Regions from separate parts of the Homo sapiens genome. Here region 1 is linked to region 2. Evidence: fine-mapped expression QTL. A gene starts in region 2. The other region holds a variant in brackets. All regions are shown on one strand. Distances are from middle to middle.

Region 1 (5,387 bases), 510 kb before region 2:
CGTAAATTTTAGAATTAGCTTACCAATTTTAAGAAGGAAGGGAGAGAGGAAGGGAGAGTGCATGGGAGAGAGGAAGCAAGGGAAAAAGGAGGAAGGACAGAGAAAGAAAATCTGCTGGGATTTTGACTAGTATCGCATGGAAGCATAGGCCAATTTGAAGAGCGTTAACATTTTTACAACTATGGGTCTCCCAATCCAATTTACATGTTATATCTCCTCATTTATTTAAGTCTTTAAAAACTATTCTCTGCAATGTTCTGCATTGCTGTGCATTGGTCAGGTGCATATTTTGCTAAATTTATTCCTAACAAGGTGCTTAATTTTTTAAATACTATTATAAATGGCATCAAATTTAAAGTATTATTTTCTAATATTTGTTGCCAGTATACAAAAACATAGCTGATTTTTGTATGTTGACTTTATATTCATTAGTTTAGCTAAATTGCTGACTCATTCTAATAATTCACCTGTAGATTCTATGCATACAATCATGTCCACAGATACTATCAGGTTTGTATCTTTTCTAATCCTTAAATTTTGAAATTTCTTTTTCTTGTCTAAACTACTCTGGCTAGAACCTCCAGTACACTGTTACATAGAAATGGTAAGAGTGAACATCCTCGTCTTGTTGCTGGTCTCCAGCAGAAGTGTTCGTATTTCATTATTAAGTACAGACTTTTATAGATGAAAGGGTTCCCTTCTAGTCCTAATTTGATGCCAGTTATATTTTCAGTGATGAACAAGTTCTGAGTTTTAACAAATGCTTTTTATTCATCTTTTGAGGTGTTCATATGGTTTTTCTTTATTTTGTTTCTGTGGTGAATTATATTGATTGATTTTCTAGTGTTAAACCAACCTTGCATTTTTAAAAGAAACTTTATTTTGTCATGATATCTGATCCTTTTAAAATATCTCTAGATTTGGTTTGCCACTAGTTTGCTCAAGAGTTTCATATCTATATTACAATGAAGGATTGGCCTATAATTTTCTTCTCCTGGAATGTCCTTGACAAGTTTCAGTATCAAAGTAATGCTGGCCTCATAAAATGAGTAGCAAAGTATTCCTTTTTCCAGTCCCTGGAAGAATTTGTGTAACACTCATTTTTTTTTTTCCTCATATGTTTGAAATAACTCCTCACTCAAATGTCTGGGCCTCAAGATTCCTTTGTAGGAATCTATTTACATTATAGATTCAATTTCTCTAGCAAATATGTGAATATTCAAATTATCCATTTTTTCTTATGTCAATTTTTGCATTTTTCTAGGCGTGTGTCCATTTCACCTGCATGTTCAAAGCCACTGACATAAAATTCTTCATAATATCATCTTAATATTTTGTTTAATGTCTTTAGTGTGTGTGTTAGTAGTTTATGCTTTTGATTTATCTAGGTCAGTCTCTCCAGGGATCTATTTATTAGGCTTTCCCTGAAAATATGGACAAATACATAGAAATTCATTATTCAATAAAAAGTTAAGAGAATGCCAACTGAAAGATATGTAGTGTGTTGGTAGTTAAAAGCAGGAGAAATTGTAATTGATTGGGAAGCTCACAGGGGACTTAAAGTGGGAAATAATTGAGATAAACCTTAAAGGAAAGGTAGAATGTTGACAGTATTAATAGAAAAGGCATTATTGGCATAAGAGAAATTTGGATAATGTGCAGCAGGAAATTGAGAAAAGATGGGAAGGTCTGGACAATCAAGAGATTTGAGTCATAGACAATGAGAAGACACCGAATTCATATTTTCAGTATTTTCATATGTTGACTATTTGGAAAATATAAGGAACGATGTTGAGGAAAGACACTAAGTTGTCCAGCCTGGTGACTGGGAGAAGAAAAAGAAGGCAAGAGGAAGAGCGTTTCAGGGTTAGAAATGTTTGACTTTGTAGGTCCCAGTCAAAAGCTGCAGGCTGGAGCCAAGACAGTGGAGGAGCTGTCAAAACAAGCAACAGCATGAGGATGTGATCAGGCTGTGTCCAGAACCATGGGCTTTAGTCCCTTTACAGCATAAGAGGAGGAAGGAGTCAGTGAGCATAGACCAGAGAGGGGAGCCTGGAGCCACAGAAGCCAAGAAAGCAGGCTTTCTAGTAGGGCAGAGTTCATTGTATCAGACTCTACAACTCAACCGAGGGATGAGGACCCAGAAAGCCACTGGACTCAGCATGCGGGAAGTCACTGTGGGCCTTTGTGGCATATATTGAGATAGTAAATGTCTGGTGTCAATGGGAAGAGAAAGAAGAGAGGGCTTCATTCTAAGGGGCATGCTTTTCCAAGCTGTGCAACCCACTCTGTCTTCCATTCACAATTATTTATAGGTTGCCTGCCTATTCCAGTCACAAAGCTAGGTAGTGATCAAAGTAGACATGACCCCTCTCCTATTGAGCTCATATCTAATGAGGAGCTAAACATCAAATAAATATAAAGAAATGATTAAAAACCATGATTAATGCTTGGGGAGAAAGAAGAGGGAATTATGAGAGAGAATAAAAGGAGGAGGCCGATTTAGATTGCAGCGGGGATTGGGGAACGCCTGACCATGGATTCACATGTAGAGGCATGAAAGAAAGAGTTCTGACAGCATTGAAATAACAAGATGGGCTGTTCGAGTGTCTCCTTCAGGGGCCAAGTAAATTCTGGGGTTCTAGAACTTGCCGGGCATCATGACCCCACAACTTCATCTAATTCCCAAACCTCCCTCCCCATCACATGCCTGTCTTCAGGAGACGGAGAATCAGTCAGAAAGCAGAAACCACCACAAGTCAAATTAAAGGAGAAAATGTGTAGCTCAAGGCAAAAATCTTCTTCCA[A/G]AGAACACAAGGAAGATGAATCTACCATTGTTGAGTTATAATGTTGGGGGATTATGAAGGCTAATATGATTAATTGTAATTATCATTTATAATGTATACTTATAATGATATTGCTTCTAGAACATCTTCATTATCTTTCACTTTTGAAATGCTGCTTGGGCTTCCCAACAGATTTCAGAAGGGGCTTTTATTGGGCCCAGATCATCAATCCAAACCTTTTAAGGTAAGGGTGTTGCTACCTCAGAAGCCAAAGAGACATTTCCTGTCCTGGAAAGCACTAAATAGTCATTAGCTTCTTCAATCTGTTTACCAGCCCGCCTGTCACTGGGGTTCGACAGGCCTCAAAATTAACACTCTACTCTATTTGTCCATCACAGGGCTGTCCCACAGACTGCGGTTCTCAAGTGGCCTCAGGCAAGCCTTATTTCATGCCAGAGCTAAGTTCCTGGGGAATAACATGTCTAAATTGAATTTGGTTTATTCAGGTCCGTTTGAAATGAAGCCTTGTTTAAAAGAAAGCCATACTCAATTTTATTTTTCAAGCAAATCTATCTTCATCGTCTGACCTAATTGGTCTCAGAGACCCTAATTTGGAGAGTTTTCATGCCCTTCGTTTATCATTGTGGCAACGTCAAAATCAGGATGGTTTCTTTCAACCACCTATGCTGCCTTTGTAAGAGCAAGGATGCTCCAAGCAACACTGGTCTCCCCAAGTGTCAGCGAGGCCCCTCTCTCCATAATCTCTGGCCACCCTCTGTCTGTCTCAGTTTCTTCTGACTTCACTGTAGGGCTCCCCAGGCCTCCTCAGTCTTGTCTGTCTCACCTGGACACCTGCTCAGTGGGAACCCATGTCCTTGACCATCTCGGCTGGCCCATGCACCTTGGCCTGTTTGTATTCAGACCTTTTGGAATCCACAGGGACAACTCACCAGTGACCAGGGGCAGAGCAGCTGTATCAACTCAGCTTGGGGAAGCTCAAGTATCCAGTGATCTTGGCTGTGTGGAGTTTGAAATGAAGCCCAGTGTATTACTCACGGCAAAACCAGGGGCCAGCCAAGTTAAATAGAGCACTCCCCGAAACATTCACGGACTGATTAGAGAAGGAAGCTCTGATTTGAAGAGAGGCTATTTTGTGTCTGCTTTTATTTTTTTAAACAACATGCTTTCCATTAGTGAGATGGGAAAAGTAGAAACCTGAAAGAATGATATTTATTAATTTAAAAAGTTCAGGTCTGTGACCATATGCCATGTCCCTTTGACTTCATAATAATGGCCACACTTTGAGGTCTTCCTTTGTCCAGAAACTGTGGTAAGCACTTTGTAAGCACTTTCTCATGTAATCTTTATGAAAACTCTGTGATGTAGGTACCGTTCTTACTCCTGTTTGCAGATGGGCAAGCTGAGGTCCAGAGAGAGTAAGCACACACTATTTTTAAGTGGTAGAGCTAAAATTTGAACCCTGGCAGTCTGCCTTCCTATTCTTGCCCGCTCTTAAACAAATGCAAGTACCCAGGAGCTTTCATGAAGAGAACCCCTCAAAAGAAAGCTGACATTACCCCACGGGTTCATAAGTGGGTGCAAGTTTTTTTTTTTTTTTTTTTTGAAAGATCTCTGAAGGCCAGGAATTCAATAAGGCGGAACACACCCCACTGAACCAAGCAGGGCTTGAGTTTGCAGATTATTTTCCGACCAGAAGGAGTTCATTGACTTGGAGGAAGAAAGGAGATCATTTAATGGACTTACAGAAAATATTTTTGTTTTCGCTTTTTTTCTCTCGCAGAACAGTTCAAATCTTCCAGGCCACGGTTCATTCCCTCTGTTGGCCTTTCTACCTGGGATTGTTATGAGAGGCCTGAAGCTAAGTCCCCGTGTCCCCCACTGGCCAAGCCTGCCCTCTCGTTTGGTCAGCGCACCGACACTGCCTTTGCAGCTGCATATCCACGTAGATATGTTTATTGGAGCACTGAGAATCTCACTTCTCAAAAAGCCCCGGGAATTAGATTGTTTTCCACACTGAAAGTTTTCATTTGAAAAATAACCCTCTTTGTTTAACTAATGAAAAGGAGGGGCTGCTGCTCGCTTCTCAGGCTGGGTAAGAATTCCATGGGCAGTAATTCTGTTTCTCAGTGGAAAATGTTTCGGTTTCTTAATGTTGTTTTGCAGACTGGTCCCTGCCCGGCCCTTGCTCCCAGGACCACACATACACACATGTGCACACTCACCCATGCACAGTGCAGCATTTTCCACCCTTCCCTGTTGGGGATGGTTGCATCCTCTTTCCAACACCTGCAGAACAAAAACGAGGTGGGTCAGTGGCTGTCACCCAGCCAGAGACATCCCTGCGTGTACGGGAACAGAACGCTTTCCCTGGCCACGCTTTCAACCCCAGAGGCTGGGTGGGCCACAGAAGAGGAAATTGGACTCCAAACTTCTCTTGTTTCTGTGCATCTCCATGTCAAGCAATTCTCTCACACTATGGAGGGGGTGTTCTGTAACATTCCCTCCTCATTAGGTTCGTATGAAATGGAGATAAACACAGTGCTGTCATCATTGGACTTAGAGTGTGGCCAGCATGGTGCA
Region 2 (5,387 bases):
GTTTTAAATGGATTCTAGCAATGTTATTATACATTTCTTATATTTTATTTATCATTTCTCTGAAAGGTGCTAGATTTTTATATTAGTAAGAAAGTTTGCTTTTACTCTGTCATATCTCTGGTGAGCAGACGCTCTGGTATTAATGTAAATCGTTGATTTAATTTTTAGCTTTCTTGGTTTGCCCCTCACCTATCTAAAAAATGATTTCTCTGGTGATAACTAACACATCATGCTAATGAGAGAATCTAATGCACAATAGAAAAATGTCACTACTAATAATATTTGCATGAAGTTAAATAAAGCAACTGTAAGAGAATGTCAGACAGTTGTTCTTTAATAAGACACAGTTTCACAATGAAATTATGTTGTTAATTTTGTTACATCATCGGGTGAATCCTAAATTACTACATAATGATGCAGAGAGTCATTTATAATCCTAACTTAGTATTTCACTCAAGTATGAAAAAAGACCTTATTAAGGGATCTACATTTTATTTGAAACAGGTTAAATATACCTCACCAATAATAAAAGGTAAATGTCTCTAGTAACACATTAAATGTGGGCTATAGCTATATACCTTTATGGTTTCCTTTCTAAAAAGATTTTTAAATAGACTGGACTATTACATCCCTTGAGATAGCTACAAGAATTTTATTTACTATTCTCTCAAATGCACAAAATATTTATACAAATAGAAGAATTGCCTCCTCAAGTGTGATTAAAAAAAAAACTTTGAAAAGCAAGCCTCATTTTTTGCTTTTAACAGTACCTTGTGAAACTAAAATAGGCAAAATAAGGTTCTTTCTCCACCTGTCACTGATCAAACTGATCCAAAGAAGAACTCCCTTTACACAAGTGTCATACCCTTTAATGTTCTCAAATACTCAGCTATATACATAGAAATAATTTGAGAAAATCATACTTGAGTATAGAAGAAAAAATGTACAGGCACAGGAAAATGTAGTCAAATAGACTTCACTTGAACTTTAGGGGCACATACTTCATCCCACTAAATCTAAATTGGCTTCAGATTGTGATTATTTGTTACTATTAGACAGAATGAAAGATGTACATTTAAGCAGATCCAACTTTGCTCATATGAAACAAAAGACAAAGATTTTTGTATCCCTACTTCCTAGTTTACTAATAGAACACATAAAACTAGATTATTAAATTTCAGTATTCATGGACATTTCCCACAATTTTCTCTATAGTTAAATACTGATGGTAAATTATCTGTAACTCAGTTTTGAAACCTTTTATAGCAGCCCTACTAGTCAGAGTTTTCAAACGTCTAAATAAATAATCAGGAAAATATTAGTTTTTATACTATTAAAGAAAACTTTAAAAAAAATAACCCAATAAATTTTATTCATTTCATAAGCTAAGTAAATTTTACTTAGAAATAAAATAATCATAATCTAGAGAAACCTCTTTATGCCTCAGCAATGAGATGTACAGAATTCTACATATTTGATTAAACTGGACAAACTTTTACCTGTAACAAAAACTAGCGTAACTGTATATATTGAAAGTAATACTCGTTTAAATGGCTGGCTTCAAGAGATATCAGAGATATAATTTCAATAAGTCTCTCTCTCTCACACACACACACACACACACACACACACACACGTGCTGAATCAGCATTGCTGATGAACTACAGGTAAGAAAAACAAACATATTAAATATGAACAGCACACATACTTTCACTCACATAGTTTGAACTTAAGTTATGTAATATTTATACAAACTAAAATGTCATCTTGAAGAGAAAAAAAATGCAAGCTCATATCCTCTTTTACATGCTTTCCAAAAATGCACAAGAGGTAAACATTCAGTGACCATGACAGAAAAAGGTGGGTTGGGGGGATAGGAGTGATTGCTAACTACATCAAAACCAAAAAAAAAAGAAAACATATTTAAAACTGTGATTTCTCTCCTTTTGTTGTACTACTCTATTTCATAAATAGCATAATATTATACAGTTTTAATAGCATCCATTAAGCATAAATTAGTTCCCTATATTTCTATTCTCTCCATATAATCACTGATGCTCACCATTACACATATATGCACACACAGGTACACACAAAATATCCACACAGTCAGACAGCTGGATCAAAGACATCATAAATTGTCCTAATTCTGACCCATCATTTATATTACTTTATTTGTTTTTTAGTTAAAATGTTTTCCATGACAAAATCTCCTTAGATTCAAATCTACTTGGAAATGGGCTAGTGCCAAATAAGCAATCTAACACCATCTATGTGGTTCAATAGCCATTTATCAATTGATCATTATCTCTATCTGGTTTTATTAACTCTTTTCTAGCTAGAGGGAGACGTAAGCCAATCTTCCCTTCTAACACACACACACACACGCACACACACACACACGACCTCCACTAACTCAAGGAAAACCCTGAAGGTGACATCTAGTTTTAAAAGTGAAGCACAAGTTATTTGGTACTAAGGTTAGCGAAAACACTGCATTCCAACACGCGAGAGCCACCCAGGCAGGGATGCGTCGCGGAAAACACCTCTCACAGCGCTCTGCAGTGACAAGGAGCATCTCTGTGTGGAAATGAACTTTTCACTTGAAAGAATGGGAAATTGCACATGAAGAGTTACTTATTGGGTTGATGTTGATTGCATTTAAATCCCAGCTTACTGTATCAGCAGTAATCAGGGTCCCTCTACAGGATATGTCAAAATATACCTTATTCAAATGCATTTATCCTATTTAGAATTGTGTGCTAAAACTGTTCTCTAGCTAAATGCTACAAAACCCTGGTTGTAGGTATTATCGCTTGCAAATGTATTTCTAAACTTGTAGTAGTTTATAGCCTGGCAAATTGTTTTTTTTTTATTATCAACAACTTTAAATATCTAACTCAAAGTATTTAATTTTCGTGAACTCTTACAAACAAAAGCTTTTTAAAAAAAAAAAAAAAAAAAGCAGTTGCAGTATTTTTTTCCTCTTGAGTGGCACAACATTTCTTAATAACCGCCGTCAACTTAAAATCCAAGTATATTTGTCAATAGTACTTTCGTGCTGTGTGGATGATAATATCAAACTAACTTGCTTTGTGTGTGGATGATAATATCAAACTAACTTGCTTTGTGTGGGTTTGGTGTAGGCTTTGGAAAAGCAAGACGTGTCTAGGAGGGAGGCACCAGGGAACTTCCCTCCCTCACTTGAGCACAATCCAAGATGAAAGTTTCTGGGTTGTGTCCCCTTCGCTTCCTCTCACCCTCGCTCCCCCGCGGAGCCAAGGAGCCAGCAATTGTGCAAGAGGAGACCGGCGCACAGGGCGCGTATCACGGAGCGCATGGTACGAGCCGCCGGCTCCGGTGATTAATTATCAGTAACCGATGGCCTCGCGCTACCACGTCGGCTTTCCCAGCAGAGCCAGCAAGCCGAACGCCTCCAGCGCGGCCGGGACGGAGGAGCGGCTCTGGGGAAGACGCCGAGGCTGCGCCCGAGTGAGTGCGCCGGCGGGCCGGCGGGCGGGCGGGAGAGCGGGCCGGAGCCGGCGAAGGGAATGCAGGGGCGGGCGCAGAGGGCTGGCTGGCAAGGAGGAGCGGAGCGGAGGAGCGAGGACCGAGCAGCACAGCCCGCCACGCACGCCGACTCCTCCAGCAACCCTCGGCGCTGGCAGCCAAGCCTGCACAGCCTCGTCTCTCTTCTCAGGTCTGAACGAAGCTGCCTCCAGCCACATGAAGTCAGTAGGGCTGTTCTGAGGGGCCCCGAGATTTGATGACTGTTTTTTAGGTTGCGGAACCTACTCCGAGAGAGCAAACACTTTGGACGAAGTGATTCATATTGATAGATACATTTGTTGGGAGGTGGCTTTTTTCATTCTCAACAGAAAACAAAGAAATAAATTAAGTCTTCCCCTGACCCAGATTGTACTGTGAAACTTTTCAACAATGTCTCTGCTTTCTTTTACTTCGGTATCCTTTCCCCTTTTTCTTTTAAGACGCCCTTAGGGAAACCATGAAGTAACCCTGCACATTCCAGTAACACAGTTATGACAAAACAAGAGCCTAACTAGGAAGTGACCACATTTTAAAAAGTATTTAGAAAGAAAAACACCAGAAACAAAAGTGCCCATAACAATTCAAGGTTTCTTAAAAAAAAGAAAAAAAAAATCAAGAAAGAAAGTAACTTACCTGTTGGGACATTCTGAATAAGAGGTTAGTATCAGCGTTTTGCCATGTCCCCATGAACCCTGGTTCAGCCGTAGTCGTTCTGGTTCCGAACTGCATGGAGTTGTCAGTACAGGAGTCTCTTAAAGTCAAGTCTCTTGCCCTCTTTGGCTCTCTGTCTCTCTGTGTCTCTCTTTCTCTCACATCCACTTCTGCCTCTTCTGACTGAAAAGTGAAGGTGGATTTTTTGAGCCTCTTGGCAGCCAGTAGCAGGAGTGTAGTGTAGTTAAGAAGCTGGCTGAACTGTGCATTTCATTTGGGAAGGGGGAGATTTGGGGGAGGGAGGGGGTCAGAGCTTCTTTCGCACCTTCTGCACAGATATCCCTATCATTTATGCATAGATTGTGACTCCCCAAGCTTGCCTTTGCTCAGTTTAACAGCTGCCTGTCAGGTGTGCAGGCGGCACTGGAGACCCAACCATCAGCTTCAAACTCTCAGCCACTGCATGTCATTGGATAGCAGAGCTAAGAGTCAACTGCACTGTTCCACTGTCAGGCACCAAATGACACCCTGCACTAACCCCTCTCCAGATATACAGATAGATACACACTTATGCACACTCCAGGCAGCACCACAATCACGGTGCACAGGGCAAGGGGAAGCTAGGGCCCTTCCCCGGGAATTTTTCTCAACAATGCTTTCTGATATAACACATAATATCTGACACCAGTCTTTGGCTTTAACATTTGTAAAACTGTGATACTTAAATTTTTTTTTAATTACACTGAAGAAAGTAAAATATTCAGCTGTAAGAGAATGTAAAGTTGGCTCAGTTATGGTCTAAATGTTAGCTCCTGAAAGTCATCTCGTATGTGCTGGGCTATTTATAACCACATAGAAACTCCTAAATAACGTACATAGAGATGTGACCTTATACTCTAAAGAGTAAGCAAATAAGCCTAGCAGTTTTTATAACATAGAAGATGCACAATAAACATTTGCCAAATATAAATATATACTATTTAATATCTAGTACCTCAGGCTATTAATTACTAAACTGGATGTTAGCTAATGAGAAACTGAATGGCAAAGGAAAAAAGTATACCTTTTCTTAAAGCTCAGAAGTAGAAAAAAATCCTTTGTTAAAGTTCCTAGATGAAGCATCTGCAATATCCTTTCAAATCGTTAAGAAAAGAAAAAGATAAACAAAAAAAGCCTGTCCCATTTCA

The links. PIP is the estimated chance that this variant, and not a neighbour inherited with it, causes the effect.
Region 1: its variant is fine-mapped to the expression of BNC2-AS1 in thyroid (GTEx, PIP 0.96).

Annotation. Positions count from the first base shown.
Region 1 is chr9:16,210,187-16,215,573 of GRCh38, forward strand. LINC03041 (long intergenic non-protein coding RNA 3041) reads right to left here. Exons shown (of 4, transcript NR_171034.1): 3 at 5,030-5,093. Among named protein-coding and RNA genes, the nearest start is that of LINC03041, 63 kb to the right of the region's middle. The variant A/G (reference allele first, on the strand shown) is at 2,808.
Region 2 is chr9:16,723,615-16,729,001 of GRCh38, forward strand. BNC2-AS1 (BNC2 antisense RNA 1) reads left to right here and starts at 3,200. Exons shown (of 3, transcript NR_151723.1): 1 at 3,200-3,341; 2 at 3,417-3,492; 3 at 3,701-3,910. It overlaps BNC2 (basonuclin zinc finger protein 2), which reads right to left. Exons shown (of 7, transcript NM_017637.6): 3 at 4,183-4,383. RefSeq lists an enhancer at 2,783-3,284.